7 separate regions of the Homo sapiens genome follow, and all the other regions are reported to be linked to region 5. The links are microRNA targets in miRTarBase. Many come from high-throughput screens and were not tested one by one. Region 5 holds a microRNA gene; each other region holds the end of a gene's coding sequence. Distances are between the middles of the regions.

Evidence for each region. Region 5 holds the annotated microRNA hsa-miR-6817-3p (UCUCUCUGACUCCAUGGCA, at 1,842-1,860, opposite strand). A microRNA usually pairs through its seed, bases 2 to 8, with sites in the 3' UTR of a target mRNA and lowers its output. Matches are read on the target gene's strand: a 7mer-m8 pairs with bases 2 to 8, a 7mer-A1 pairs with bases 2 to 7 and ends in A, and an 8mer does both.
Region 1: the mRNA of ZNF662 is a reported target of hsa-miR-6817-3p. Seed matches in the 3' UTR shown: 8mer at 2,825-2,832 and 7mer-A1 at 3,224-3,230.
Region 2: miRTarBase lists LHX5 as a target of hsa-miR-6817-3p. Seed matches in the 3' UTR shown: 7mer-A1 at 820-826.
Region 3: the mRNA of ZNF708 is a reported target of hsa-miR-6817-3p. Seed matches in the 3' UTR shown: 7mer-A1 at 421-427 and 7mer-m8 at 822-828.
Region 4: miRTarBase lists GPR37L1 as a target of hsa-miR-6817-3p. Seed matches in the 3' UTR shown: 7mer-m8 at 1,990-1,996 and 7mer-A1 at 2,803-2,809.
Region 6: miRTarBase lists CABP7 as a target of hsa-miR-6817-3p. Seed matches in the 3' UTR shown: 7mer-A1 at 2,398-2,404, 7mer-A1 at 2,400-2,406, 7mer-A1 at 2,402-2,408, 7mer-A1 at 2,404-2,410 and 7mer-A1 at 2,406-2,412.
Region 7: miRTarBase lists PIP4P2 as a target of hsa-miR-6817-3p. The part of its 3' UTR that is shown has no 7-base or 8-base seed match.

Annotation. Positions count from the first base shown.
Region 1 is chr3:42,914,702-42,918,767 of GRCh38, forward strand. It overlaps ZNF662 (zinc finger protein 662), which reads left to right. Exons shown (of 5, transcript NM_207404.4): 5 at 1-4,066. The coding sequence ends at 653. Among named protein-coding and RNA genes, the nearest start is that of ZNF662, 11 kb to the left of the region's middle.
Region 2 is chr12:113,459,459-113,463,524 of GRCh38, reverse strand. LHX5 (LIM homeobox 5) reads left to right here. Exons shown (of 5, transcript NM_022363.3): 5 at 1-1,492. The coding sequence ends at 335. Among named protein-coding and RNA genes, the nearest start is that of LHX5, 10 kb to the left of the region's middle.
Region 3 is chr19:21,289,487-21,293,551 of GRCh38, reverse strand. It overlaps ZNF708 (zinc finger protein 708), which reads left to right. Exons shown (of 4, transcript NM_021269.3): 4 at 1-2,392. The coding sequence ends at 278. It also overlaps the pseudogene COX16P1 and the pseudogene VN1R83P. Among named protein-coding and RNA genes, the nearest start is that of ZNF708, 38 kb to the left of the region's middle.
Region 4 is chr1:202,127,717-202,131,769 of GRCh38, forward strand. GPR37L1 (G protein-coupled receptor 37 like 1) reads left to right here. Exons shown (of 2, transcript NM_004767.5): 2 at 25-4,053. The coding sequence ends at 840. Among named protein-coding and RNA genes, the nearest start is that of GPR37L1, 6.8 kb to the left of the region's middle. RefSeq lists enhancers at 2,167-2,950, 2,951-3,734.
Region 5 is chr22:25,453,486-25,457,551 of GRCh38, reverse strand. It overlaps MIR6817 (microRNA 6817), which reads right to left and starts at 1,906; the gene lies at 1,841-1,906. It also overlaps the pseudogene CRYBB2P1. RefSeq lists an enhancer at 1,736-1,839.
Region 6 is chr22:29,728,960-29,733,015 of GRCh38, forward strand. It overlaps CABP7 (calcium binding protein 7), which reads left to right. Exons shown (of 5, transcript NM_182527.3): 4 at 96-249; 5 at 483-2,874. The coding sequence ends at 610. ZMAT5 (zinc finger matrin-type 5) reads right to left here. Exons shown (of 6, transcript NM_001003692.2): 6 at 1,997-2,395. The coding sequence ends at 2,266. Among named protein-coding and RNA genes, the nearest start is that of CABP7, 11 kb to the left of the region's middle.
Region 7 is chr8:90,992,429-90,996,494 of GRCh38, reverse strand. PIP4P2 (phosphatidylinositol-4,5-bisphosphate 4-phosphatase 2) reads left to right here. Exons shown (of 7, transcript NM_018710.3): 7 at 675-2,693. The coding sequence ends at 818. Among named protein-coding and RNA genes, the nearest start is that of C8orf88, 9.2 kb to the right of the region's middle.

The sequences.
Region 1 (4,066 bases), not on the chromosome of region 5:
ACCAGAAAACTCATAATGGAGAGAAGGTCTATGGATGTAAGGAATGTGGGAAGGCTTTCAGTTTTCGATCACATTGCATTGCACATCAGAGAATTCACAGTGGGGTGAAACCCTATGAATGTCAAGAATGTGCTAAGGCCTTTGTTTGGAAGTCAAACCTGATTCGTCACCAGAGAATACATACTGGAGAGAAACCCTTTGAATGTAAGGAATGTGGGAAGGGCTTTAGTCAGAACACAAGCCTTACGCAACATCAACGGATCCACACTGGTGAGAAACCATACACATGTAAGGAATGTGGGAAAAGCTTTACTCGAAACCCAGCCCTTCTTCGACATCAGAGAATGCACACTGGGGAGAAGCCTTACGAATGTAAGGACTGTGGGAAGGGCTTCATGTGGAACTCAGATCTTTCTCAGCACCAGAGGGTCCACACTGGGGACAAGCCTCATGAATGTACTGACTGTGGGAAAAGCTTCTTTTGCAAGGCACATCTTATTCGACATCAAAGAATCCATACTGGGGAAAGACCCTATAAATGTAATGACTGTGGGAAGGCCTTCAGTCAGAATTCTGTCTTAATTAAGCACCAGAGGCGCCATGCTAGAGACAAACCCTATAACTGTCAGATCTCTCACCTTCTTGAACATTAGAGAGTGCATAATGGTGATACTTGTTTATAATTCTTATGCTGCAGGAACCCTAGAGACAAAATGAGATGACCATTCACAATTTGCTGTAACCCTTAACTTAAATAGCCAGTATTATCTTGCCCTTTTGAACATTTACCATGTACTCTAGCAAGACTGGTCCCTCTGTTCTATGATGTTTTAACAAGGCATCATTTAGTTGGGCAGCTACTCTGTATCAGGTGCTAACCACTTTACATACATTAATTTGCATAACAATCCTATTAAGGTAGGTGCTCTTCTCCCCATTTTACAAATGAGAAATCTGAGTTGAAAGAGGTTATAAAACTCATTCAGGGTTGCTCAGTTAGTAAGTTATAGAGTTGAAATTGGAGCCAGGCCTATCTGACTGCAGAGTTTACTGTTCTTTACTTAATTGTACATATTTATGTCTCTGCCCATTTTTATTTGCTTATTTTCCTGTGCTTTTAGTTTCCCTTCATCACTCAGATCTAGCTCCTTCAACTAAGAAGATCTCTCTTCCTCTTCTACTTGTAATCAGTACCACCCAAGTTAGTATTTAATTATGTGCCATCTTATATTTTTCTAATAGTCTCATGTCTTTTAATCTTAACCCCAGCTAAATGACTCTGAGGACCAACAGTACATTTCTTTTATGTTTTTCAAATCCTGAAACATTAATCTTTGACTAGATATAACATGCTCATGATAAAAAAGAATTGAAATAGTTGAAAAGGGTGTTCAGTGAAAAGTAAATTTCCTTGTCATTCCTATCTCTTGAGTTCTCCCCAGAGGCAATCACTGCTACTGGTTGTGTATCTCTGTAGATACTCTTTGTATACAAGTGTTTATTAGTATTGCTTTTCATAATTCTGTCTCACTGAAAACCTTATTTGATGGAAGCAACATTGCAGTTAAATTGTGAACTCTAAGACCTTTTCTTCAGAAGTTGCTTTCCTTTTGAGGCCACCAAAGTAATTTAGGGAAACAGCAGAGGGTAATCCAGGTCTTTTTTTTTTTTTTTTTTTTTTTAGACAGAGTCTCACTCTGTTGCTCTGGCTGGAGTGCAGTGGTGCTATCTCAGCTCACTGCAAGCTCCACCTCCTGGGTTCATGCCATTCTTCTGCCTCAGCCTCCCAAGTAGCTGGGACTACAGGTGCCCGCCACCATGCCTGGCTAATATTTTTTATTTTTAGTAGAGACGGGGTTTCACCATGTTAGCCAGGCTGGTCTCGATCTCCTGACCTTGTGATCCACCTGTCTCGGCCTCCCAAAGTGCTGGGATTACAGGCCTCAGCTACCACGCCTGGCCAATCCAGGTCTTAAGAGACCTCATTGCCTTTGTTTTATGAGATATCATTCTGGGATTGGGAATATGTAAACTCAACTGGAGATTTTTTTTCATAAAAATTTATATAGTTCCAGCCCTCTCATTGCTTCCTATCCTAAATCCTCTTCCAGTCTGTCCATCCCTCACTACCATGATAGTCTACATTCTGATAAGCTGTGAGGCCACTGCCAAGGGAGGGAGAAATGGTCACTTTCTGGTGGTGGTTAATGCTTTGTTAGATAGCTTCATCCAGTCAATAGTTGAAAAGTTTTCACATAATCCAGTATTGGCATCAGAGCCAGAAATGCCCTCCCTAGGTCCAGGACCAAAGATAAAACAAACACGAGGAACATGTAGCGTCTACACAGGAAAGTAAAGAATTATAGAATTAACTAATTCTACTTGAAATCAGGAGTTTTATAAAACAACATTTTTAGACGTGGTCATCTTTTATTGGTTTCCATCATCTCTTCCCCTTCTCTCTGGGAACAGTTACCCGGGTATTCTTTGGGAAGCTATCCTTTCTCAGCTATGTGGTTTGGCACCACCACCATCTTCATGAGTGGACCCTGTTTGGCTTGTGTCAATCAGTTTATCCCATCCCCTTGGCCACAGAGCCATTGTGATATGAGGAGATACTGGCTCTTCTGGAAAAGAGAGGCTTTTCTTCATCGAGAGCTACCAGAGGAGATATTATCTGTCCTCTGTGTGGCACATAGGAAAATGTGAGACCTAGAATTATAGCAACTTTTTTTTTCTGTTAAAAGGGGAGATTCTCAAGCTTCCAGGTGCTACCATATGGAGCCTAAGGATAAAGCCAATACCAAAGAAAACAGTGACTAAACAGAGAGAAACTAGGTCCTTGGTGACATCTTTTGAGCCACTAGACCAAGCTTTACCTGAAGCAGAGCTACCTCAGAACTTTTCAGCTATGTGAGCCAATAAACATCTGTCAAACGAGTTAGAGTTGAGTTTTCTGTTATTTGCAACTTAGCCACACTAATACTGTTTTGTGTTTGAAATCACTGTTTTCTCATACAGCTCCTCAGTGTCACCTTTTCCTCTTGCTCAGTAGTCTCATAAGCTTCTCAGTTTTATCTCATCTCAGTTGCTTGGAAGTTGAGCATCTAAATAGGTGGCTTTTGCTGGGTGCAGTGGCTTACGCCTGTAATCCCATCACTTTGGGAGGCCAAGGTGGGCAGATCACCTGAGATTGGGAGTTCAAGACCAGCCTGACCAACATAGAGAGACCCCGTCTCTACTAAAAATACAAAATTAGCCAGGTGTGGTGGCACATGCCAGTAATCTCAGCTACTCAGGAGGCTGAGGCAGGAGAATTGCTTGAATCTGGGAGGTGGAGGTTGCAGTGAGCCGAGATTGTGCCATTGCACTCCAGCCTGGGCAACAAGAGTGAAACTCCATCTCAAAAAAATGAAAATAATAAATAGGTGGCTCTCATGACCTAAGGTTAATTTCATGCATACTACTAAGTGATGCTTTAAGTCATACCATTAGTGCAGGAATTTTTGCTCCTTAGTTCAGCTAAAATCTGGGTTCTTGTCTCATGACCAGGAAAAATTAGTCACAGGGACACATTGAAAAGTGAGGAGGGCAGAATTTATTAAGTGAAAAGGAAAACTCTCAACAAAAAGAGGGGTCCTGCATGCAGGTTTTCCATCTCACTAAACTGAATACCAGGCCACCACACATGAGCTGAAGAGCCTAGTCTTCTCCCCCTGCATGAATTCCTGGTGGCTACACCCCGTTCTCCCAGTGTGCAGGCAGGCCCTTAGTCTGAGCCACTCCACATTATTTCCCTTACTGTGTATGTGTTAAGGAACGGAATTTTTCATCATGGGCATGTTTAGGCAATCCCCCTGTGCACAATGACCTGGGCAGCATTTGGCTGTCTCCTGATTCTATCATTCCCCCCTCTAAAGAAGTACATCTAACTTAGAATAAGGATAAGGATAAGGGTAGTGATCGATCTTAACTGGTTCCTGCTGATGGGGGCACTGTTTTGGGAAAATAGCAGTGAGATCTCCCTCAGAGGCCTATCTAAGGGTCCCTGGTAAAAGGTGGCCAT
Region 2 (4,066 bases), not on the chromosome of region 5:
ACTACGACTTCTTCGCGCACGGCCCGCCTTCGCAGGCGCAGTCCCCGGCCGACTCCAGCTTCCTGGCGGCCTCTGGCCCCGGCTCGACGCCGCTGGGAGCGCTGGAACCGCCGCTCGCCGGCCCGCACGCCGCGGACAACCCCAGGTTCACCGACATGATCTCGCACCCGGACACACCGAGCCCCGAGCCAGGCCTGCCGGGCACGCTGCACCCCATGCCCGGCGAGGTATTCAGCGGCGGGCCCAGCCCGCCCTTCCCAATGAGCGGCACCAGCGGCTACAGCGGACCCCTGTCGCATCCCAACCCCGAGCTCAACGAAGCCGCCGTGTGGTAAGGCCGCCGGGCCGCCCCCCGCGCTCGGCCCCCGGGGGCCCCGCCCCGAAGCAGCCTCCTGAAACCAAAACGCCCGACGCAGACGCGGTGGGAGACGTGGGTGTCCCTCGGGGGTTCTCTCTCGGGTCCGCACTCAACTGGCAGCTGCTCCTCGGCTGGGCGCCGAGGGGGGGCCGACCCCCATCTCCACCCCGCGGGCTCTCCAGGAGCCTCAGCCCACCGCCAGTACTCTCCCAGCAACCGCGAGCAATTTCTTGGGACCAAAGTCAATACTCCGGAGGGTCAAGAGATTTCGAGCACGCTCTAGACTTTCCCCGGGCCCCCACCCACCCACCCAGCCACCGCCACCTCTTTGGACTGAGAGAGGGTGAGGCCAAGGGGCGGAGACGGTGTTTTTCCCTCTCTCTGCAATCCGAGTGGCATTTTGTAATCTTATTTCTCGCTGTGCTTTCCCCGTCTTTAAAAAAAAAGATGATAAGAAAAGGAGAGAGATTGAAAGAGAGGGAGAGGAAAGGGGGCAAGATGAGGAGGAGATGGAGAGACAGCGTCAGCCAGAGGGAGAAGACGGAGAGCGAGCGAGGAACTCGCGTGAACCGGGAGCCACCGAGAGGGAGACCGAGCCACCTGCACGCTGGCGCTCCCTGGTGGCCAATCTTGAGGCTCAAGGTCAGCTTCTCTAGGAATAGGGCTGTGGGTCAGGAAGTGGCCAGCCGGGTCCAGCTCCCGCTCTTCCTTACTTTGACGTTTATGTTGAGCCCGAGGGAGCAGGCCGGACTCGAACACGCACACATCCTGCTCTCCCCCTGGGTGGGGCGCCAGGATTGCTGGGCTCAGACCCACAGACCACCCTCCCTGCCCAGGGCCTGGAGGCTGGGCCGTCAGGATGTACAATATTATACTTTTTTGGAAGTTGAACGCTTCTAGTTTCCTTATTTTGTATAAAGAAGAAACAAATAAAGTATGTTTTTGTGTTTACTGTTTATTTATTGTACTCTAGTTATCCGGGGTTGGACATTTTTATATTTTTAAGAGGAGGTAGGGCAGAGTGACGGAGGGGAAGCAGAAAGAGGTTTACCTAAAAAAAACAAAAAACAAAAACAAAAAAAATCAACTTTTTTTAAAGAGAAAGATTAATAAAAAAAAATCTTTTTTCCCTCAGCGCTGTGTGGTTTTCTTTTTTTGTCCCTACCTTGATAACGACTCAGAGAGAATGAAACCATTCCTTTCCCTGGTTCTGGTCTCTGACATTAAACCCTTGATGGGTGCAAAAACCTCTGCTCACCCAAAGGGGGAGCTCTTCTAGTGACTCCCAGGTTCATGAAAGTGACTGTCCTCTTTCGACAGCTACTACGTGCCAGGCACCGTATCTCCCCATGCTTTATGTAATACCCTGCTCTAACACAGGCCTGCCCAGCATATAGTAGGTCTTCAGAATGTTTGATGAATGAATGAATGTGTGATTTGTTTGTTGCCAGCACATCAAAAGAATTAGAACTTCACTCCTAACTATTCCCCCATGTAATTTCTGGTGGCCCAAAAAAAGAGCAGGCTGGTAAGCTGATGCTGGTTATCTGCAAGGCTATGTTAGGACTGAAGTGCGCCTCCTCCCCAAAGTGAGGCTGTTGTGCTCTGCAAATCTTATGCAGTGCATGCTTGTCTTTAGGTAAAGGCATGAGGGAAAGAGTGTCCAGTGAGATTTAGGAGGCCTGAGGCCACTACCTAAAACAAGTCACTCTCCTTCTTTGACTCAGTTTCCCTACTTGCAAAAGCAGGGGTTGGAGAGAGTGCTTCCTACATTCCCTTCCAACTCGAATGTCTGTAATCCCAGCACTTTGGGAAGCTGAGGTGGGTGGATCACCTGAGATCAGGAGTTCAAGACCAGCCTGGCCAACATGGTGAAACCCTCTCTCTACTAAAAATACAAAAATTAGCCAGGCATGGTGGCAGGCACCTGTAATCCCAGATACTTGGGAGGCTGAGGCAGGAGAATCGCCTGAACCCGGGAAGCGGAGGTTGCAGTAAGCTGGTACTACATTACTGCACTCCAGCCTGGACGACAGAGCAAGACTGTCTCAAAAAAAGAGAGAAAGAAAGGAAAGAAAGAAAGAAAGAAAGAAAGAAAGAAAGAAAGAAAGAAAGAAAGAAAGAAAGAGAAAGAAAGAGAAAAAGAAAGAAGGGAAAAAAGAAAAAGAAAGGAAGGAAGGAAGGAAGGAAGAAAGGATAAAAGAAAAAGAAAAGAAAAGCAGGAGAGGGAGGTAAAAATAAATAGAAGAGTGTCCTGCATTGGGATCACTTTTCACCCAAGCTCGGGGTGAGTGAAGCGGCCCATTGTAGCTGCAGCAGGGGAAGGTGGGGAACAGACCGCCATGGGACAGGCGCACGCTCAGAGCCCCACTCTTCTGCCCTTCTTCTTTATGTGTTCCTCACAAGAATCATGCAATGTGCCTTGCCTTTTTCTTTTCTTTCCTTACTGCACATTCATCTTTATCAGACCAATGCTACTTGCTTGTGGAAAATTTAGAAATCTCAGATAAACAAAAGGAAGAAAATGTCACCACCCAGAATCTCAAGCACTATGGAAATCTAGATGATGCATTTTCTTTCAGACTTCTTTTTTCTTTTCTTGTTTTTTTGTTTGTTTTTTTGTTTGTTTGTTTTGTTTTGTTTTGTTTTTTCATTTTGAAACTAGAGATCATACCCTATACTCAATATGTGGTCATCTGCTCTGGTTCACTCAGCAATAGCTTCCAGATGTATAAACTGATCTTCATAGACAGAGCTATGTCATTCTGTGTAGTCACTGCTTAAAGTTCTCTTCAATGGCTGAGCCATCCTTTTATGGTTTTTGTTTTATTTTTAACCAAGTCTATTATTGGATATTTGGGTTTGTTTCCAACGTTTCACCACTTTAAACCACATCAGAATATCCTTGCAGCTGAATCCTTGGACGTGTATCAGGGTAGGTATTATTGGCCCCCTCAGGGTACTCAGAGAGGTTGAGGGACTGGCCCAAAGTCACACAGCTGGGAAGTGGCAAAGCTGAGATTCAAACCCATGTATTGGGTTGTGTTTCTACTTCTCTATGGTGCCCTAACTGTAACGGATTTTAGAGGCCAAGAGAGAATTTGCAAGGTGGACCTCATCTCTGGCGGGTCCCTGAATGCTTTCTGGGCATGTGTGAACTTTACAGAAGGGCTCACTTAGAACTTGCACCAGAGCAATATGGGGGAAGCGAAGCTAGGGGGAGGAGAGGACTCACCCCTTCCTCAAACAGGGTTGTGACAGGGAGATACAGGTTGGGGAGAGAGGGGAGGGGAGGAGGGGTGAAAGAGAGGAAGAGGAGGGGAGGGAGGCAGGAGAAAAGGAAAGAATAAGGAAGAGAGGAAGAGGAAGAGAAGGGAGAAAGGTTAGGAGGAGAGAAAGAGAAGATTAAATCTGTGGCAGGAAGAGCCCCCATAGGTGTGCCAAGTCACCTACTGCTCATGCTCCATGGTGTCCAGGGACCGCCCCCAGCCCCTACCCAGATAGGACGCTTAGACCCAGAGGTGTCCTTCAGTGAAGGCAGCAGAGTGAGGCTACAGAATGAGAAACCGCAGTAGAACCAAGCCCTCTGCCCCTTTCTCCAGGTACAGGCACACACATGCACACACACACGCACCAGACAGTTACATATGGGCCCACACAATGAACACTTACACATGCAAATACATGTACACGAACAAAAACACAAGC
Region 3 (4,065 bases), not on the chromosome of region 5:
GAGAGAAACCCTATAAGTGTGAAGAATGTGGCAAAAGCTTTATTCTGTCCTCTCATCTTACTACACATAAGATAATTCATACTGGAGAGAAACCCTACAAATGTAAAGAATGTGGCAAAGCTTTTAACCAGTCCTCAACCCTTATGAAACATAAGATAATTCATACTGGAGAGAAACCCTACAAATGTGAAGAATGTGGCAAAGCCTTTAACCAGTCCCCAAACCTTACTAAACATAAGAGAATTCATACCAAAGAGAAACCCTACAAATGTAAATAATGTGTCAAATCCTTTAGTGTATTTTCAACTTTTATTAAAACACAAGATAATTCATACTGGAGAGAAATCCTACAAATGTGATAAATGTGGCAAAGCCTTTAACTGGCTCTTAATCCTTATGAAACAAAAGATAATTCATACTAGAGAGAAACCCTACAAATGTAAAGAATGTGGCAAAGCATTTAACTGGTCCCTAAATCTTACTAAACATAAAAAAACTTAAACTGGAGAGAAACTACAAAGCTGGAAGACATCACAGTAATTCTGACAACACCTCAAACTTTTCTAAACATAAAATAAATCATACTGGTGAGGAACTTTAAAAATGCGAAAAATGTGACAAAATCTTTAAATGATTGTCACACTTGATTGTAGGTAAGATAATTCTTACTAGAAAAACTCTTACAAGTGTGAAGAATGTGGCAAAATTTTTAATGAATACTCACACCTTATTGCCAGGAAAGCATTTATACTTGAGAAAAATTGTACCAATATAAAGACTGTGAAAAAGCCATTAATGTCTGCTCACATCTTACTCAACATCAGAGAGTACTTAAAAAAAGTATTATAAATTTAATTACTGTCAAAAAGTATTTCAGAAAATATAAGCTTTTAAAGTATTTATTTTGAAGACAAACATTACAAATAAAAGAGGATTGTAATACCTTTATTTGTATCACAGATCTTATTGTACACATTTTGTACTAGAGAAAACCCTGAAGCAGTTACTTAAACTTTGTTCAACATCAGGGAATTCAGATTGGAGAAAAACCCTGCAAATGTAATAAATTTGAAAAAAAAGTTTTCCAAAACTACAACTTAGACAACACCAGAGGGTTCATACTGAGATATATTTTTGCAGATGCAGTATATATTTAAAACATTTAATCCAAAATAAGTCTATGTAAATATCAGAGAATTCACAGTGGAAATATCTAAGGTAGGGCCGGGCATGGTGGCTCACGCCTGTAATGCCAGCACTTTGGGAGGCTGAGGTGGGCAGATCATGAGGTCAACAGATTGAGACCATCCTGGTCAACATGGTAAAACCCTGTCTCTACTAAAAATACAAAAATTAGCTGGGCGTGGCGGCACGTGCCTGTAGTCTCAGCTACTTGGGACGCTGAGGCAGGAAAATCCGTTGAACCCAGGAGGCAGAGGTTGTAGTGAGCCGAGATTGCACCACTGCACTCCAGCCGGGTGACAGAGTGAGACTCCATCTCAAAAACAAACAAACTAAGGTATGGATGCTTCAGACATTACACTATATCAAAGTGCTGACTGTTAAAAATGATCCCAAACTAACGGTAGATAAATTTATTTGTACATAACTTTAAAAGGAGTAGAAGATTTTTTGGAAGTTTGTAATTACATTCAAAGTATACTTTTTTTGTTTGTTTGTTTTCCTTGAGACAGAGTCTCTCTCTGTCGTCCAGGCTGGAGTGCAGTGGCACAATCTCAGCTCGCTGCAACCTCTGCCTCCTGGGTTCAAGCAATTCTCCTGCCTCAGCCTACTGAGTAGCTGAGATTACAGGTGCACACCACCACGTCCGGCTGACTTTTGTATTTTTAGTAGGGACGGGGTTTCACCATATTGGTCAGGGTAGTCTTGAACTCCTGACCTCATGCTCTGCCCAGCTTGGCTTCCCAAAGTGCTGTGATTACAGGCTTAAGCCACAGCGCCCGGCCCAAAGTGTTCTTTTTTCCTTGAAAAGAAGTACAGATTTTTTAAAAAGCTAATATTGCTGTGATTCAACTCTCTAGTTACTTGATGCTATTTCTTCATTTCTATTGTATTCACATGTGAAAGCATGTGATCAGTTGTCACGGCATCAAAGATAGGAGAGTTTCTTTTTTTTTAGGTGGGCATTATTTATGACCTTTTCTTTGGAAGAGTAAGGACATTAAAATGTAACATGCATGATGAAAATCTAAGTGGAGATGGTATTTGTGGTTAATTATGATATTGAGTGGTGCATGAGGTAGGTGTTTAGAGTAATATTCTTTTGCATTATAGTAAGAACATTTAAGTTTTGTTAAAATTAAAAAATTAGTACGTTATTTTACTATTTGTACTTTTATGTAATAAAATGCAGTACATTTTTAAATTTTCAGATGATGTGTGAACTTGTTTCATTATACATTTTTAACATGTTAATACTATTGTGCATTCAATGAAGCATTATTATGCCACTAACTGAAACCTATCCCATTTACTCAAAGGTGTAGGTAAATGATAGTAAGAATATACTATTTGGTAATGTAATCAACTAACATCTCTGGTAATCTCCTTTGCCAGTGGCTTTCAACTGCAAATAAGTTTAAAAAATACTGTTTCCGTAGGTTAAATTTTTATTATTTTTTCTTGTTGAAATCTGTTTAATTTTTTTTTTTTTTTTTGAGACAGTGTCTCGCTGTGTCCCCCAGGCTGGAGTGCAGTGGCACGATCTCGGCTCACTGCAAGCTCCGCCTCCCACATTCACGCCATTCTCCTTCCTCAGTGTCCTGAGTAGCTGGGACTACAGGCGCCCGCCAACACGCCCAGCTAATTTTTTGTATTTTTAGTAGAGACGGGGTTTCACCGTGTTAGCCAGGAGGGGCTCGATCTCCTGACCTCATGATCCGCCCATCTCGGCCTTCCAAAGTGCTGGGATTACAGGCGTGAGCCACTGCGCCTGGCCTAGATTTTTATACAACGTGTAGCAAATACAAAATTTGCTAGAGAATATATTTTAGAAATCAAAATTTTAGGAGTTCTAATGGTAAGTAAAGAATTTTAAATTTACTTTTCTGTAATGTAGTGTAACTTAATTTCTATGCAGAATCTTCTACTTTAAGAGTGAATGTTAAACATGGCAAAATAATAAAGTGACCTCTGTGAATTTGAAATTTGAGATAATATTTCTTTTCCATACTGATATTACAATTTGAAGAAATTTCCAGTTCATATAACTTTTTTTCAGTGGGTGAAGTTCAGTCTACAGTTTTTTTTTGTTTTTGAGAAAGAGTTTTGCTCTGTTGCCCAGGCTGGAGTGCAGTGGCCCAACCTCGGCTCACTGCAACCTCCGCCTCCCAGGTTCAAGTGATTCTCCTGCCTCAGCCTTCCAGGTAGCTAGGATTACAGGCATGCGCCACCACACCCAGCTAATTTTTGTATTTTTAGTAGAGACCAGGGTTTCCCCATATTGGGCAGGCTGGTCTCGAACTGCTGACCTCATGATCCACCTGCCTCAGCTTCCCAAAATGCTGATAACAGGCGTGAGCCCCCGCACCTGGCCCAATCTACAGTTTTTATTCTGAGTCATCTAAGTATAGCCAACTCCTTGGTCATTTTCTCTGAAGAATTTTGGAAATTTTGGCAACTTGTGGATTAAAACATTTCCTATTATTTTGCATGCAAGCTTGTTTACTGTGTTCACAGTCATGGGACAATAAACATCACCTGCCCATTTACTGTCTATCATACCATTACCATCAGCACCAGAAACTCCAGGTGCCCCAAGCTTAGAAGCCCTAAACTACATTGGCTCCTCTCATACACTGTGCTGTGTCCAGAACATGCTGTTAAATATCAGAGTACCTATGGTTGTGTTGTGGCTGAAAAATAATGCGAAAAAAACAGCACAAAAACCATATATTTTGGATACTATTCAGCAAAATTAATGATGAAGACACAATATTTGAAACATTGTTATCCTTCTATAATGTTTTAAAAATACATTTCTTAACTGGACAGATGAAATGTGTGTTCTGTAAAGCATGATGATTTGAAGTATATCTACATTGT
Region 4 (4,053 bases), not on the chromosome of region 5:
TCTTCCCTCACATCCTGCCCACAGGTCTCCTCTCTGGGAGTCACGACTTTCAGCCTCTGTGCCCTGGGCATTGACCGCTTCCACGTGGCCACCAGCACCCTGCCCAAGGTGAGGCCCATCGAGCGGTGCCAATCCATCCTGGCCAAGTTGGCTGTCATCTGGGTGGGCTCCATGACGCTGGCTGTGCCTGAGCTCCTGCTGTGGCAGCTGGCACAGGAGCCTGCCCCCACCATGGGCACCCTGGACTCATGCATCATGAAACCCTCAGCCAGCCTGCCCGAGTCCCTGTATTCACTGGTGATGACCTACCAGAACGCCCGCATGTGGTGGTACTTTGGCTGCTACTTCTGCCTGCCCATCCTCTTCACAGTCACCTGCCAGCTGGTGACATGGCGGGTGCGAGGCCCTCCAGGGAGGAAGTCAGAGTGCAGGGCCAGCAAGCACGAGCAGTGTGAGAGCCAGCTCAACAGCACCGTGGTGGGCCTGACCGTGGTCTACGCCTTCTGCACCCTCCCAGAGAACGTCTGCAACATCGTGGTGGCCTACCTCTCCACCGAGCTGACCCGCCAGACCCTGGACCTCCTGGGCCTCATCAACCAGTTCTCCACCTTCTTCAAGGGCGCCATCACCCCAGTGCTGCTCCTTTGCATCTGCAGGCCGCTGGGCCAGGCCTTCCTGGACTGCTGCTGCTGCTGCTGCTGTGAGGAGTGCGGCGGGGCTTCGGAGGCCTCTGCTGCCAATGGGTCGGACAACAAGCTCAAGACCGAGGTGTCCTCTTCCATCTACTTCCACAAGCCCAGGGAGTCACCCCCACTCCTGCCCCTGGGCACACCTTGCTGAGGCCCCAGTAGGGGTGGGGAGGGAGGGAGAGGCCGCCACCCCCGCCGGTGTCTGCTGTTCTTTCCCCATAGGTCTTGCTTTGTTGCCTGTCTTGCTGTCTAGGGATGGACTTGGTTCCTCTTGTCAAGGTTTGGGAATGTCAAAGCCCCCTCCCCACACAGGGCCTTTCCTGTCCCTTGTGGGGCCTTCCAACCCTGTCCTTTCCACTGGTGGGCGGTGATGCTTCTAGGTCCTTAGAACTGCCCAGAAACTCTGAGTCCCAGCAGCTGGGAGCCAGAACTTTGCCTGCCCTCCCTTGGTTCCAGTCTCTCTTCTCTCTCTCTGCCTTGGAACCTGACCATACTTTAGTTGTGCCCTTCCCAGGCATCATCCTCCTACCACCAACCTGGGGCCCCATCTTGGAATGGGGGCTCCTTGGGGCCAGCCCAGTGTGGCTCACCACACTCTTCTTTTTTTTTTTTTTTTTTTTTGAGATGGAGTCTTGCTCTGTTGCCCAGGCTGGAGTACATTTGCCTGATGTCAGCTCCCTGCAACCTCCGCCTCCTGGGTTCAAGCGATTCTCCTGCCTCAGCCTCCTGAGTAGCTGGGATTACAGGTGTGCACCAACACACCCGGCTAATTTTTGTATTTGTAGAAGAGGCGGGGTTTCACCATGTTGGCCAGGCTGGTGTTGAACTCCTGACCTCAAGTGATCTGCCTGCCTTGGCCTCCCAAAGTGCTGGGATTACAGGTGTGAGCTGCCACGCCCAGCCCCAGTACACTCTTCTCTGGACCAGATCTGTCCCAGTCCTGGATGCCTCCTCCTACTGGTGCCTTCTTTTCTTCCAGAGGATTTCTCTCTCCTTCCTCCTCCTTTCTTTGGGATCCCTGGGTTGCCCTGTCCCAACCTCCTTGTTAGGTGCTTTCCCATAGGAGGCCCTTCTTGAGAAACAATAAACTAGGTAGAACTACCCCTATGCCCATCCACTTTCTTGTGCCACATTCTGGCAGGGCCCAGATGCAGCTGGGCCTTCCTGGCCTGGCAGTGCCTAGGAGAATTTCTCCTGACCTGGCCTGGCCTGTGGCTGATGTTCAGAACAGCCTTGTGGCCGATGTTCAGAACAGCCTTGTGGCCCTGGCGACTCCAAGGGTTTTATGGCTTTTGAGGGACAGAGAGGATGGAGGGCTTGGGGAGCCGGAGGACCTAAGTCCTCATCCTGGCCTAAACCCCATGCTCCTTGGGAAGTCAAAAGCCTGGAAAATATCTCCTCTGGAGCCTTCATCTCTGCTATGCCCTCTCTCCACAAAGCCCCCCTTGGAGGGAGTCCAGTGGTCTTTCCTCTGTGAGCCCCAGGGCTTCCCAGCCTTTGTCACTCTGAGAGCTGCTCTTGTTCAGTTTCTTAGAATGGACTGTTTTGCCTGTAGACGGCCCAGCTGCCTGCCCTGGCCTGCCCCCACCCAGCCCCCACTGCACCACCCTTCCCGCCAGAGCTCCCACTGCCCCCGGCAGACCCTTCATGCAGCTTCTCCTGTGGGGTCTTGCCCTTGAAGTGCCACTTCCCCCAGCCCCACCTCTGGTCCCTTCCAGAGGGCACCCTTAGCCTTGTAGGTCCCTGGGAAGCTGGCACAGCATCAACCAGAAGTGATGCCTCAGCCAGGCCACCAGTCGCTCCCCGCCTGGGAGCTCAGCTTTCCTCAGAACCACCCCCCCTGTCTGAAGCTCTGTCCTGGGTCCCACCAGACTTCTGCCCACCAGGCCTACCTACAGCATCCACATGGGGCCTCAGGAAGGGCCCCGGGGGCCCAGGGATGGGCAGGGGCAGGGTTTCCAAGCGCCTGGGGCTCCATTCTCCTCTGTCCACCCACCCACACCCCTTGGCCTCAGCCTGCCCTGTACCCAAGCTTCCCTCCCCCTCTCCTGGGGATCTTAACGGCCTTGTTCTCTCTCCCTGGCACCCACCCCCAGGGCGGGTGATGCCGCCAAGAGAGAGGGAGGCCGTTGCTAGGTGATGGCGCCGCCATGCACACACCCTTTGTGCTGGGGAGTGACACCCACCCGTTTCTCAGCAGACCTGTTGCCACGGTGACTGAAGCCCCCAGCTCTGTCTGTAGAAACTTCAGATGGGTGGGGGAGCAGGTTGGAGAGGGGACCAAAGGCAGGCCTGTCGTGCTGAAGCTCTTGGGGACCGTTTCCTCGGCATTTCCCCAACTCCTTCTCCACCCCCCTGCCAGGCCCGGAAGTACCACCAGCTTCCTAAGGGATGCAGGAAGGGGCCGGGTGAACTGAGGTGAAGTCCAGGGCAGGGGAGTCAGACCCCTCAACATCCTGTTTAGGGGTCCTCCTCCACAAAGGGTGCCCTCCACCTCTCCCTCCTGCTGGTTGGCCGGCTCAGAGATGAAGGGGGAGAGATGGTGGCTCCAAGGCTCTGCCACCGCCACCTCCCAAGCCTGCCAACGTGAATGGCTTGCAGAATCAGTCAGCAGGCCAGCGGCCTTGGGAAAGAGCCACTGTCCTCGCAGCCTGGGCCAGCTGGGGGAACAATGTAGGGTTTGTTGCTTAGGGGTCCCAGGCTTGCGGGGGGGTTGGCACATGGTGGGCAGTGGACTTGAGCTGGGATGGTCTGAGGGGGCACTGACACGCTCACCCGAGGGCAGACTTCAGACCAGCCCTCAGATCCTGATGCCAGGTTACAGGGCTGAGGGGAGCCTGAAATCCACTGGGTCTCCCTGCTCCACTTGGGAGTCACCTTCTCATCACCTATCCTGGAACTGAATGCAATTACTTAAACTCAGTCTCAGCTTCCTCATCTGTAAAATGGGAATAATCTGTCCTTCACAGAGGATTATGGTCATTTAATGAGACAAGATACATAAAGCACTTTGCATGGTGCCCCGAACCTTTTATTCCTTCCTCTCCTTTGGGAATTCAATTCTCTAGTGTTAGGAGCAGGCTTGGCCCAGGGATTCTTAAATGCATCCAGGTTTTGGCATCAAAGGGCCCCAAACATGACAATTTACCTATACTCATGGTCTGTTCCCATTCAACTTTAATAGGTTATGTGTGTTTTTTTTTTCTTAAGAGCTGGGTGGGGGGGTCTCACTATGTTGCCCAGGCTGGCTTTGAACTCCTGGGCTCAAGCAGTCCTCCTGTCTCAGCCTCCTGAGTAGCTGGGACTACAAGTGTGTACCACCATGCCTGGCTGAACACTTTTTTTTTTTTGAGACAAGATCCCA
Region 5 (4,066 bases):
ATTCCCATTTACTTTCCAGTGGGAAGCCAGAGGTCAGCAGAGCACATTGATGTGTGCAAGATCACCAGTGTGTACAGGGCAGAGCAGGACTTAGGACCCCAGAGTCTCAGTTCCTGGGGCAGGGTGAGCCAGGGCTGGCAATGCACTTACATGCCACTCCGCACCCACACAGATGACACCTTCTCCTGGTAGCCATGGGCGTGGAAGCTGGGTACATCGTCATCTATGATTTCCATCTTCTTCCCGGTGAAGTTGGGGTTTTCATAGAGGATGATCTTGTGCTCTTGGCTGTCCTATTGGCAGAGGATGGGGGGAAGTGAGTATGGGTGAGGGGGCCCAGGGTTGGCCTTCCCACCCCATGCTCATGCCCCAGAGTTGGGATCAGCATGTCCCACACATCACTCTCTTCCCAATGCACCCACTACGTGTCTATGACCACTGCTGTTGGATCACAGCCGTTTGTTAAGTTTCTACTGGGCCATTTTCATGTAACAGACACTCTGCAACACTTTGGGGAATGTTTGATTCTGAAATGTCATTTTTTCCTCCTCAAGTTTCTCTTTTATAAATGGTGGCTACGATCTACCTACCCACCCACATATGAACACCCACACATACACACACACGCACACCCACACAAGCGTGCACACATACAGGCACACACGCACACTTGCACACACACACGCGCGCGCACACGTGCACACCCACACATGTACACACACATGCACACCCACACATGTGTGCACACACGTGCACACTTGCACACACACACGTGCACACACATGCACACCCACACATGTACACACACACATGCACAGGCTAACTGTGCCTCTAATAGGCACCTGAGATACTTTGATTTTTCTTCATTTCTACATCTCTTCCCATCCTCCTGTCCCTATGACATTTTCCTTAGTTATCTCATCTCATCCTTTACACATAAAACCCTTATCCCTCAGACATAAAATCCTCTTATGCCATTTAGCAGATGAGGAAAGTGCGGCACAGAGAGGTCAAATGACGTGCTCAAGGCCACACAGCTGGGAGCAGCACAGCCAACTTGGGAACCCAGGTCTGTGGGGTGCAAAGTCCAGTGTTCTCCAACCTTCCAGTAGGTCCTGGGAGGAGCTAGACTGGGCTTGGAGGGTTTGAGAGTGTAACTGAGCAGTGATGGGCCCTGTCCCCTTCCTGAGAGTTGACACTCTCACACACTAGTAAGAATCAGGATCTCAGAAGCACTGAAAACTCACACTGGCACGAGTCTTGAAGAAGAGCTAAACCACCTTCTCCTCCAGCCCCAAACTCATAATTTCTTGTAGTATTTCTGATGGCTATTGGTTATTGAGCAATGACGGGAGTTGCCCAACCCTTGGGCGCGGGGGGCGGGCACCAACCACCTAAAATAGAATGTGAATAGTGCCCTCTGGAGCATTTCATAGTCTTGTGATTGGAGCCTTCTGGAGTTGCAGTGTGACAACCCTCAAGCTAATAAGCACATTGGAACCTCAGGACAGTAGATACCAATATGCCCATTTTACAGATGAAGAAACTGAGGCTCAGGGAAGTAAAATGACTTTTGCAAGGTCACCCAGTGAGGAGGTTCCTCACCAATCAGAAGGGGCACAATGCTAGAGGGGCGGGCTCCTTCCTGGTCCCAGGACCTCCTGCTCCAAGGTGGCAGAGAGAGAAAGTAGGATGATGGCAGGGGGCTCACCACTTTGATGGGCCTCAGGCTGCTGAGTCTGTCCTCTGGCTGCTGGTCCACCAGTCCCAGTGGGCGTACTCGCCCTTCTCAAACACAAACTGCTCGCCCTTGCAGTTGGCCTGTTCATAGCTCACCCAGCTGCCATGGAGTCAGAGAGAAAGGGGGCAGGTCAGTTCCACTCCAAGCTTCCTATGGCAGAATCCTGGCTACTGATGTTGACCCCTAGGGTTCACTCTTGCCCAGCCCGGCAAGATGTAATAGCCCCACCCAAACCTTAGCACAGCAAATCCAAGTGCAAAATCCCCTCAGTTATCTAGAACTCAGTGCTATGCTGCCTTTACCCACCTGGAACACAGTTAAGAAATAAGAAGGCAGTCTAAATAACGGCCCAGCAACAAATACCAATATATAGACGCCATGCACTAAAGCCAATAGTATGCTGGTAAGTTAATAGCCAACTCTCAAAAAACAAAACGAAAATTAACACTCTTGATTTGCAGCGTTTGCCAATTTCCATGGTGTAAATGCTCCCACTGTGGCAGATTTCAAGCTATCAATACGACACGGCTGCAAGTGAAGTTAGGAAGAGAGATGCACAGTCAGCCTTCACCACTGAGAACTGACTCTAGAACATCTCTGGGCCCAAAGCCCCTCTCTTTGGATCTGTTTCTTCTCTTGTTCCTGTTGTTAGACTCTGCCCAAACTCTGTTTTTGTAGATCCACATTAGAAGAAAAATAGTACATTAAAGAGGAAGGGATGGCTTTCAGGTCGGGCATGGCTAATAGAAGAAAGCAGAAAATAGAAGAAAGAAGGCACAAATCTCAAAATGATTAGCATTCTGGGACCAACCAGTGCAGAGGCGAACATTTCAGCAATGTGCAATAATGGCTTTTCAGAGGAATGATCTAAGTCATTAACAAAAGAGGAGATCATGTTTATTATCCTCTTTTGGAAAAGTAGTCTTGATCCAGCAATTCTACTTCAGGCAATGGTTCCTTACAAAACAGTTGTCAAGGGGCTGGGCACTGTGGCTTATGCCTATAATCCCAGCACTCTGGGAAGCTGAGGTGGGCAGATCACCTGAGATCAGGAGTTCGAGACCAGTGAAACTCTATCTCTACTAAAAATACAAAAAATTGGTCAGGCATGGTGGCTCATGCCTTTAATCCCAGCACTTTGAGAGGCCGAGGCGGGCAAATCACGAGGTCAGGACTTCAAGACCAGCCTGGCCAACATGGTGAAACCCCGTCTCTACTAAAATACACAAAAATTAGCTAGGCATAGTGGCAGGCACCTGTAATCCCAGCTACTCAGGAGGCTGAGGCAGAAGAATCACTTGAACCTGGGAGGCGGAGGTTGCAGTGAGCCAAGATCACGCCACTGCACTCCAGTCTGGGCAACAGAGTGAGACACTGTCTCAAAAAATAAAAAATAAAAATAAAGAAAAAGAAGACGTTCAAGTGACCAACTGACATGAAAAAATGCACTACCTCACTAATCATCAGTGAAATGCAACTCACAAACACAATGAGATACCATCTCACGCTGGTCAGAATGGCCATTTTTCCAAAAGCAAAACAACATGCTGGCGAGGCAGGAAAGGAAAGGGAACGCTCCTACCTTGGGGAACGTGAAAACAGGTTCACACTGTGGAAAGCAGTGTAGAGATTCTCAAAGAACTTAAAACAGAACTACCATCAGACCCAGCAATTCCACTACTTAGTATCTACCCAAAAGACAATAAATCCTTCTATCAAAAAGACACATGCTCTCGTGCATTCATGGTCGTGCCATTCACAAGAACAAAGATGTGGAAGCATCCTAGATGACCAGCAACAGTGGATTTGATTTTTTAATGTGGCGCATACACACCAAAAAATACTACGCAGCCATAAGTAAAACACACAATCATGTCCTAAGCAGCATGGATAGACCTGGGGATTATTATGTTTAGCAAACCAAGGCAAGAACAGAAAACCAAATACTGCATGTTCTCACTTATGAGTGGGAGCTAAACAGTGAATACACTCGAACATAAAGATGGAAACAATAGACACTGGGGACTATCAGATGGAAAAAAGGAGGCAGAAAGGGAGTGTGGGCGGAAGAACCACCTGACGGGCACTTTGCTCACTGCCTGGGTGACGGGGTCAGTGGCCACAAGCCTCAGTGTCATCAAAGGTTCACATGTAACTAAGCTGCAATTTAATCAAAATAAAAGTTGATTTAAAAAAAAAAAAAAAAAAACAGGGTTGCCCTGGGCACAGTGGCTCCCGCCTGTAATCACAGCACTTTGGGAGGCTAAGGCAGGCAGATCACTTGAGCCTGGGAGTTCGAGAGAAGCCTGGGCAGCATGGCAAAAC
Region 6 (4,056 bases), 4.3 Mb from region 5:
GAATCTAGAGGCCTGTCACCGGGTCTGTATGGCCGTGGGGTGCTGGGTGGGGGCTGCGGTGGCTCTCAGAGCACCGTGTTGTCCCCCTCCGCAAGTGCGACATGCAGAAGCTGACGGTGGATGAGCTGAAGCGGCTGCTCTACGACACCTTCTGCGAGCACCTGTCCATGAAGGACATAGAGAACATCATCATGACGGAGGAGGAGAGCCACCTGGGCACAGCCGAGGAGTGTCCCGTGGATGTGGAGAGTGAGTGGCTGGCCCTGGAACCCCACGGGTGGGCCCAGTGACTTGGCCAGGGGGACGCACGGGGTGGGGAGAGTCTGCAGAGGGGGGCTGGGGGCCTCCTTGCCTGTCCTAAGCCTCTGTCCCATTGGGGCACCCCATGGGATGAGCCCATGTGCCGAAGGGCAGGCGGCTCCTGACTCCATCGCTTTGATGTCCCCTTCTGTCTCCCCGGTGCTCCCGGCGGGCGGCCACAGCCTGCTCCAACCAGCAGATCCGCCAGACTTGCGTGCGCAAGAGTCTCATCTGCGCCTTCGCCATCGCCTTCATCATCAGTGTCATGCTCATTGCGGCCAACCAGGTGCTGCGCAGTGGCATGAAGTAGACGCCACCTGGATGCCCCATCCACCGCATGCGGTGCCCGTGGCCCGCCCCACACCACCGCCGCCTGCAGACCTCTCCCTTGGCCGGCTCCCTGGGCCGCCATCTGCGTGTACTTCAGGGCCTGGGTATCCAGCGAGCCCTCCCCACCCACCCACGGTCCTCACCTGGAGCTGTGGCCTGGCTGTGGAGGGCCGGGTGGTGGCTCTGAGGATGGTCCCCAGCCCCACCCTGTCCCCACCCTGGCCTGTAAGGAGCACTCACTCTTCCTACCATCCAGGGGCTCCTGGGAAATTAAGGAGGGATTTGCACAGGAACCCCCAGGACCCAGTCGCTGCTGTGGTCCCTTGGGCAGGAGCGGGCACCCTGTGCCTTGAGACAGCAGCCTATCTGGGGCCACACAGCCAACCCAGCCCTGGTCCCTGAGGTCTGCCCAGGGCACAGGGCACAGGCAGGGACAGAAAGCCTTCTCCTGGGGGAGGGTGGGAAGCCAGGGTGTCCTGGGCCTTGCTGCCTGGCATAGCCTGAGGAGGCCCCTGGTCTTCTCCTTGGGCCCCTTCCTCTGACCCTCGTTGGACCCCAACCCAGACCCCCTTTTCTCCATGTACCTGCTGGGCCAGCCCATTTCACAGGTGAGGAACCCGAGGCTCAGGGCCCCGAGACTTGGCCTCAGTTCTTCCTTCCACAGGGATTTTCAGGAAAGGCAGAAGCTCGTGGAGGATGGGCATCTGAGGTGGCCCTGCAGCCCCCCACCTTCTGGCCCTCCCACCAGAGGCCCAGCTACCAAGGCCACATTGTCCACCACCCCAGCCTAGAGCCTAGAACTGTAGTCCAGCTGAGGAAGGAGGCAGAGCTGGGGCCTGAAGGCTCTGAGCAGCCTCCAGCCAGGGGGCTCCTCCAGGGCTGAACTTTGGGAGGGCCCCTGTACTACCTCCTGGGCCAAGAAACTGGCACAGCCCCACACTGTCAGTGCCAAGAGGCTGCGCCAGGCCACTCTCTCAGCCCAGGGCCTGCCCTCCTGTCCTCCCACTTCTCTACGCCCTCAAGGTTGGAGACCCCGCTCCCATGCCCCAGCTGTGCCATCCCAAATACTTGGGCAGCAGCTCAGCATGGGCAGACATGGGGGCTGTGGATTCTTCCAGGGCGGGGATGGCAGATGGAGCCCTTGGGCTCCTTGGGCCTAGAGCCACTTCTTACCAGGCAACGGGCACAGCCACCCTGGCACACCCTCTGCCTGGCCGTGCTGAACCTCTGCTGGTCCCAAGGGAGAAGGGAGTGAGCGTGGGTCACCTGGGGAAAATCTCATCTGATTCCCTCCTTGCCCGACCTCTGCTAGGGGCTGGAGAACAGAGCTCAGAGCACCCAGTGTAGGGAAACACAGCCAGACCACTGTGGTGACAGACTTTCTTTATAAACATTTGGAAGTTTTCTCCCCCATCTTCTTAAGAAGCAGGGGGGCAGGTGGAGGAGAGTGAGGGGAGAGCTGCCCGGTGCAGACCCAGGACGAGGGCTGCACTTGGTGTGGCCGTGTCCTGAGCCTCAGTGAGGCTGGGCAGATGGTCTCGGAGCCTCCATGGGGCGTAGCAGGAACCGGGCTTGGCTTCCTATTGTGACTGATGAGAAAAGTGACCACGTGGGGGTCAGTCGGGGGCAAGGGGCTCAGCCCCACTGGACTCTGGGCTGCAGAGGCCACCCCCCAGGTGGGGGTGCCCGCAGGGATGGAGGCAGCTCCTGAACTGGTGGCCAGCCCACGGGGTACTGGAAGACAGTGGTTCTGATGGGTTCAGCCCTAGAGAGAGAGAGAGAAGCGGGGAGAATAAGAGTGCACTACAGCCCAGGCTTATGCCACCCCCAGCCCACCTGCCTCACCACCCTGGCTGTGGGGAGGGTCAGCTGCCTGCATGACTTTTCTGGAAGGCAGAGCCTCGAAAATAGGCAGACCGTTTGAGCCAGCGACCTCACCTCTAGGAACTGAGCCCAAGGAAATAGCGGGGTTGCAGGCAGACATTGAGCTGCGAGACAATGGGAATAACCTTCGTGTCCACCTGTGGGGGACTGATTCAATACATATGCACGTCCACAGCAGAGAATGCCATGCGGCCTGTGTAAGAATTAAGGCAGATTTATATGCACTGATGAGGAAAGACATACTGTGTGATAGGGAGAAAAAGCAGCTTATAAAATAATGTATATAGCATGATACTATTTTTGTTTAAAAATATATAAAATATATAAATGCATAAAAAAATCCTGGAAGACACAGCAAAATGTTAACAGTGGTCCTATCTGAGTGGTGCCATTATGGGTGACTTTTTTACTCCTTTATATTTCTCAAAAGTTTTACGAGCACACAAGCCTTTGAAATCAGAAAAAAACATTGTCTAAATTTTTTTTTAAAGCCTAATTTCTCATGCTACTCACTGTCCTCCTCCTCAACGTCCACCCCGAGCCACCTCCCCTGGAACTTGGGGTCCATGTAAGTACTTGCCCTAGGAGAGGCATCCTCCGTGCCCAGCCCGGGGCACCCTGCCAAGGCCCAGCGATGGCCCCCCAACCATTCTTCCACCTGTCCCATACTCAGATCCTTCTGGCCTTGGGCCCCACGCATGCTGCTTCTCCAGGGCCGCATGGCCCTTCTCAGGCTTCGAAGTACTTTGAACCTTTGAGCACTTTGAACTCCCATCACCCCAGCTGCCTATACAAGACCTTTCTGGAAGGCAGAGCCTCAAAAACATGCAGACCCTTTGAACCAGCAACCTCACCTCTAGGAACTGAGCCCAAGGAAATAGCAGGGTTGTGGGCAGCCATTGAGTTACAGCAATAGCCGTGAGACAATGGAAGTAGCCTTCATGTCCAGCTGTGGGGGACTGATTAAGTACACGTGCACATTGGCCGGGCGCAGTGACTCACGCCTGTAATCCCAGCGCTTTGGGAGGCCAAGGCGGGTGGATCACGAGATCAGGAGATCGAGACCATCCTGGCTAACATGGTGAAACCCCGTCTCTACTAAAAGTACAAAAAAAAATTAGCCGGGTGTGGTGGGGGGCACCTGTAGTCCCAGCTACTTGGGAGGCTGAGGCAGGAGAATGACGTGGACTAAGGAGGTGGAGCTTGCAGTGAGCCGAGATCGCGCCACTGCACTCCAGCCTGGGCGACAGAGCGAGACTCCTTCTCAAAAAAAAAAAAAAAAAAAAAAAGTACACATGCACATCCACATCCACAGCAGAGAGTGCCATGCAGCCGCCGCCAAAATTCAGGCAGGAGCTCATCTGTCTTCCACTTAGGACTGGAGTCCCCAGAGGATGTAGACCAGGGGATAGGGGTAAGGTGTATTTGTACCCCAAGGCGCAGGGCCAGGCCTGGTGCCAGGAGGCCACCCAGTGATTGTGGAACAAACAGCAATGCTGAAAGATCTTACTGACCAGGTGCTATTCTGGGCCACACACCATG
Region 7 (4,066 bases), not on the chromosome of region 5:
CCATGGACCTCTTTTTGATTGAACTCGCCCATCCAAGTGAAACGGTGTCTTTTTACCTCCAAAAGTCCTTACTGTTGGGGATTTTATCATCTATTTAGCAAAAGCCCATTTAAAAAAAAATCAGTGCCAGAACTAATTTTTATGGCTATGGGGTCTCTTATTATTCAAAGCAATATTCATTCAGCTACAGAGATCTAAAAAAACCACTCTTCTCTTTATCCAAATCAAGCAGAGATTTATTACCAATATGAGGATGGCTTGTTTTTAGAGAAGACTGGAGCTAAGCAGTTAGCATGGGGATTATGCCAGAAGAGGAAGATAATCTCTTTGGCTGCCATTTCCATGCTCCTTTGTTTGTCAGTACAACTAGTCCCTTATTATTAGCAATGTCCTATTGTGTCCCATGATAGTAAGAAGTTACATGGATTAAATTCCTTGTAGAGATAATATAGTTTAGTGTGCTTTTTTGTTTACTTCATAACATTTATAGTTACTACAAGTAGCAGTATGGTCTATCAGTTGCAGTCAACAGATACACCTACTCTTATAAGGACTTTGTGTATTCGGTCTGGGGGTATATTTCATAACAATCACATGTAAGCTGATACAAGTTCCCTAAGCAGATATTTTTTAAAGTTTCTAATATTTTGTTTTTATATTGCTTTTTATTTTAGGTTGGCACCCCAGATTTTGCAAGGCGATTTCGAGCAACCTATGTTTCTTGGGCAATTGCTTATCTCCTAGGATTGATCTGCCTTATCCGAGCTTGTTATTGGGGAGCCATAAGAGTCAGTTATCCAGAACACAGTTTTGCATAAGCTTGTTTATGATTCAGTAATGCAGGTGAGAGTGTCTAGCAGTTCTTGGTAAGCTACTCTGGACATCTTTAAATTATTTATCCTAATGGATTCCATTCTGGTTTATGTATAATCGTTTCAAGACTTTGGGAGTCTTTTATGAACAAATGCTCATTGCACTATATTATATGCAAATTGTTTTGCTGCTAGGTTTTCAAAATTTGAATAATAAAGCCTTTTCATGTTCTTTTACATCTCTTATAGATATTTTTGGATTTGTTACCAAACATTACATTTACTCTCACCCTTTTATTATTTTTAAATAAGTTATTTCATTACTTGCTGATACATGAGTATTCCTAAGTGTTTATAAATATTTCTATAATAGTTTCACATTTATATTTACATTTTAATTAAACAGTATCAAAATTGCTTGCTTAAAACCTAAGCAATATGCATTTTGCTTGAACTGCTTACTGTAACTTTAACCTAAGATTATAGTGACCTTATTCAGGAAAAAAAAAAAAATTTAGTGTAACTTCAAAGACTTGACATTCTTGTCAGAGGAAAAAAAATTTCTAGATACTGTTTGCTTGTTTTTTGTTGTTTGTAGAAAGATAAAATATTTTGGTAGTAATTTAAAATACAAGAACGAATATTTATTTGTCCACAGTTGGAGATGTTGGATAAATGTCTTTTCTCAAAGATCACAGGACTTTTGTCTTTCATTTTTGCCTTTTTATTTACCATTTATAAAAGATCTGGTCTGGATTATGGAATTTAATGTTTATCAGCTCTATGTATTCCTTTATAGAGGCTTGAGGAAGTATTTCACATAACATGTTTTATAATACTTAACCATTTATCCAAAGATATATTTACATTGGGTTGTGCCCCTTTCCCTTAGATCATGGTAAATTTTTCTTATTGAGGTAATTATGTACTACTTATATTTGAAGGAAGCTTATGACATTTTACAGTAGCTAAAATGTTGAGATTAGAGGTACTTTTACTATTCTTCTCAAAGGTAACTGATCAGATAATTACCCAAATTATTCAAGAAAATAGATCAGAAATAAAGAACAACATAATTTTCTAAGAATTCATTGAAATTTATGGAATCAGCTCTCGCACTGCCCATCTTTGCAGTTTTGAAAAAGAAATTGCTTAATCACAAATGTTCTACAGTCTTTAAATGTAGTAGAATTAGACAGTGAGATCATCTGAGTAAATTGATTGGTGATTCCAGAGATAAGACTAATATTTTAAATTATTTATGATACTGATTAGTATAAAAACGTACTCATCACAGAATTTGAAGCAAAATACATGTACACTTCAAAGAGTAAATGACAAATGTATAAATGCTGTAGCTCAGGATTATATGTACCTTTAAAAATACACTAATAAAGATTATTGTTCAAAAATTACCTTGTTTTATTCCATTAAAAATAATGTCACTTCCAGAGTTGCCTTGAAATCTTGCTGTAAAGTTTTCATGTTTAGGAATGTACCTGTTTCTTTATATAATATTCATTTATGTTTTTTGTACTATTTTCAAATGGTTTTATTTTTAAAATATAGTTTTTAAATCCATTTGTAATACACTTGATGTTAGGTATAAAATAATCTTACTTCTTTTCCTAATGGTTAACTAGTTGTAACAGCATTGTATACTGAATAATCCATTCTTTCCCTCATTGATTGGAAAGCTCACATTAAATTATATGCTATGTCATATTCCTTCTGGAATAATAACTTTATGAGAGCAAGAACCCTGGTAGTCTTGTTCACAGCTTTATCCCCACTTAGAACAGTTCTTAGTGTACATGTGCTCAATTTACGTGAATGAATATGCATGAATGAATAAATGGTTGAATGAATTGCTATTTTAAATTCTTATATACACTTGAATATGTACTTTATATTTTGTACCAGAATGTATAGGTAAGTATTTGTATAACCTTGGGTTAAGAAAAAAACGTTCTAAGTAGAACTTAAAAGAAGAAATTATATAGGAAAGGATTGATACAATGAAACAACAACAACAAAATCCCCAAAATACTTCTGTATGATAAAAACCCTTAAGCAAAGCCAAAAGACAAACTGGTGAAGCTATTTTCAAAATAGGAGAAAGACTGTAATATCAGAAGGGACTAACGGTATGAAAAAGCAATTCACAAAATGACTACAATAGGTCATAAACTGTTTTTCGATTTTTCTTTTTTTTTAGACAGGGTCTCACTCTGTCACTTAGTCTGGAGTGCAGTGGTGTGATCTCGGCTCACTGCAGCTTCCACTCCCCTGGCTCAAGCCATCCTCCCACCTCAGCCTTCCAAGTAGCTGGGATCACAGCATGCGCCACTATGCTGGGCTTTTTTTTTTTTTTTTTTTTTTGGATTTTTTGTAGAGATGGGGTTTCGCTATGTTGCCTAGGCTGGTCTGGAACTCCTAAGCTCAAGCGATATGCCCAGCTCGCCCCCCGAAAGTGCTGGGATTACAGGTGTGAGTCACCGCACCCAGATCCCAATTTTCTAATATTTGAAGAATGTAAGTTAAAACAAAGAGATACTATTTTTCACTTACCATATTAACAAAGAAGTAGAAATTACAATAATACCCCTGTAATGCTGAGGACATTGGAAACACACACACACACACGCACACACACACACCACATATTCTTTGATCTAGTAATTCTCTAAGAATTTATCCTAAAGGTATTGTCAATTTTCTAATAAAGAGTAAAAATATAGTCCAATAATCCAATAACATGAGATTGATGAAATAAATTATGGCACACCTATACAATGAAATAGCAGACAATCAAGAATATGACAAAAAATTTCATCTATTGAATTGGAAATGGCTCGCAAATTGTGTGATACATAGAATATGATCCACATTTTAGAAAATGTATTTTATGTGTACATACTGAAAAAAACTAAGGAAAATAAACCAAAAATATTAGGAGTGGTTATCTCTGGGTGAAGAGAGAGAAATTATTTTTACTTTATTTTTGAACTAGATTGTTGGAAAGTAGGTTTTACTCTTGATGAATAGATAATAGTAGTATATGATGATTACATCAATATTTGTTAATTTTCATTTTGATTCTTGAAAAGTTTTAAAATGAGTTTATTAAAATCCAAACCAATGACGGTCATTGATAAAACCTTAAGCTTTAAAGTCAGAGAATATATATTTAAGCTTAGCCCTATGTGAGTTACCTAAAATTTTTAATTAATTAAATTCAAATTTATGAAACT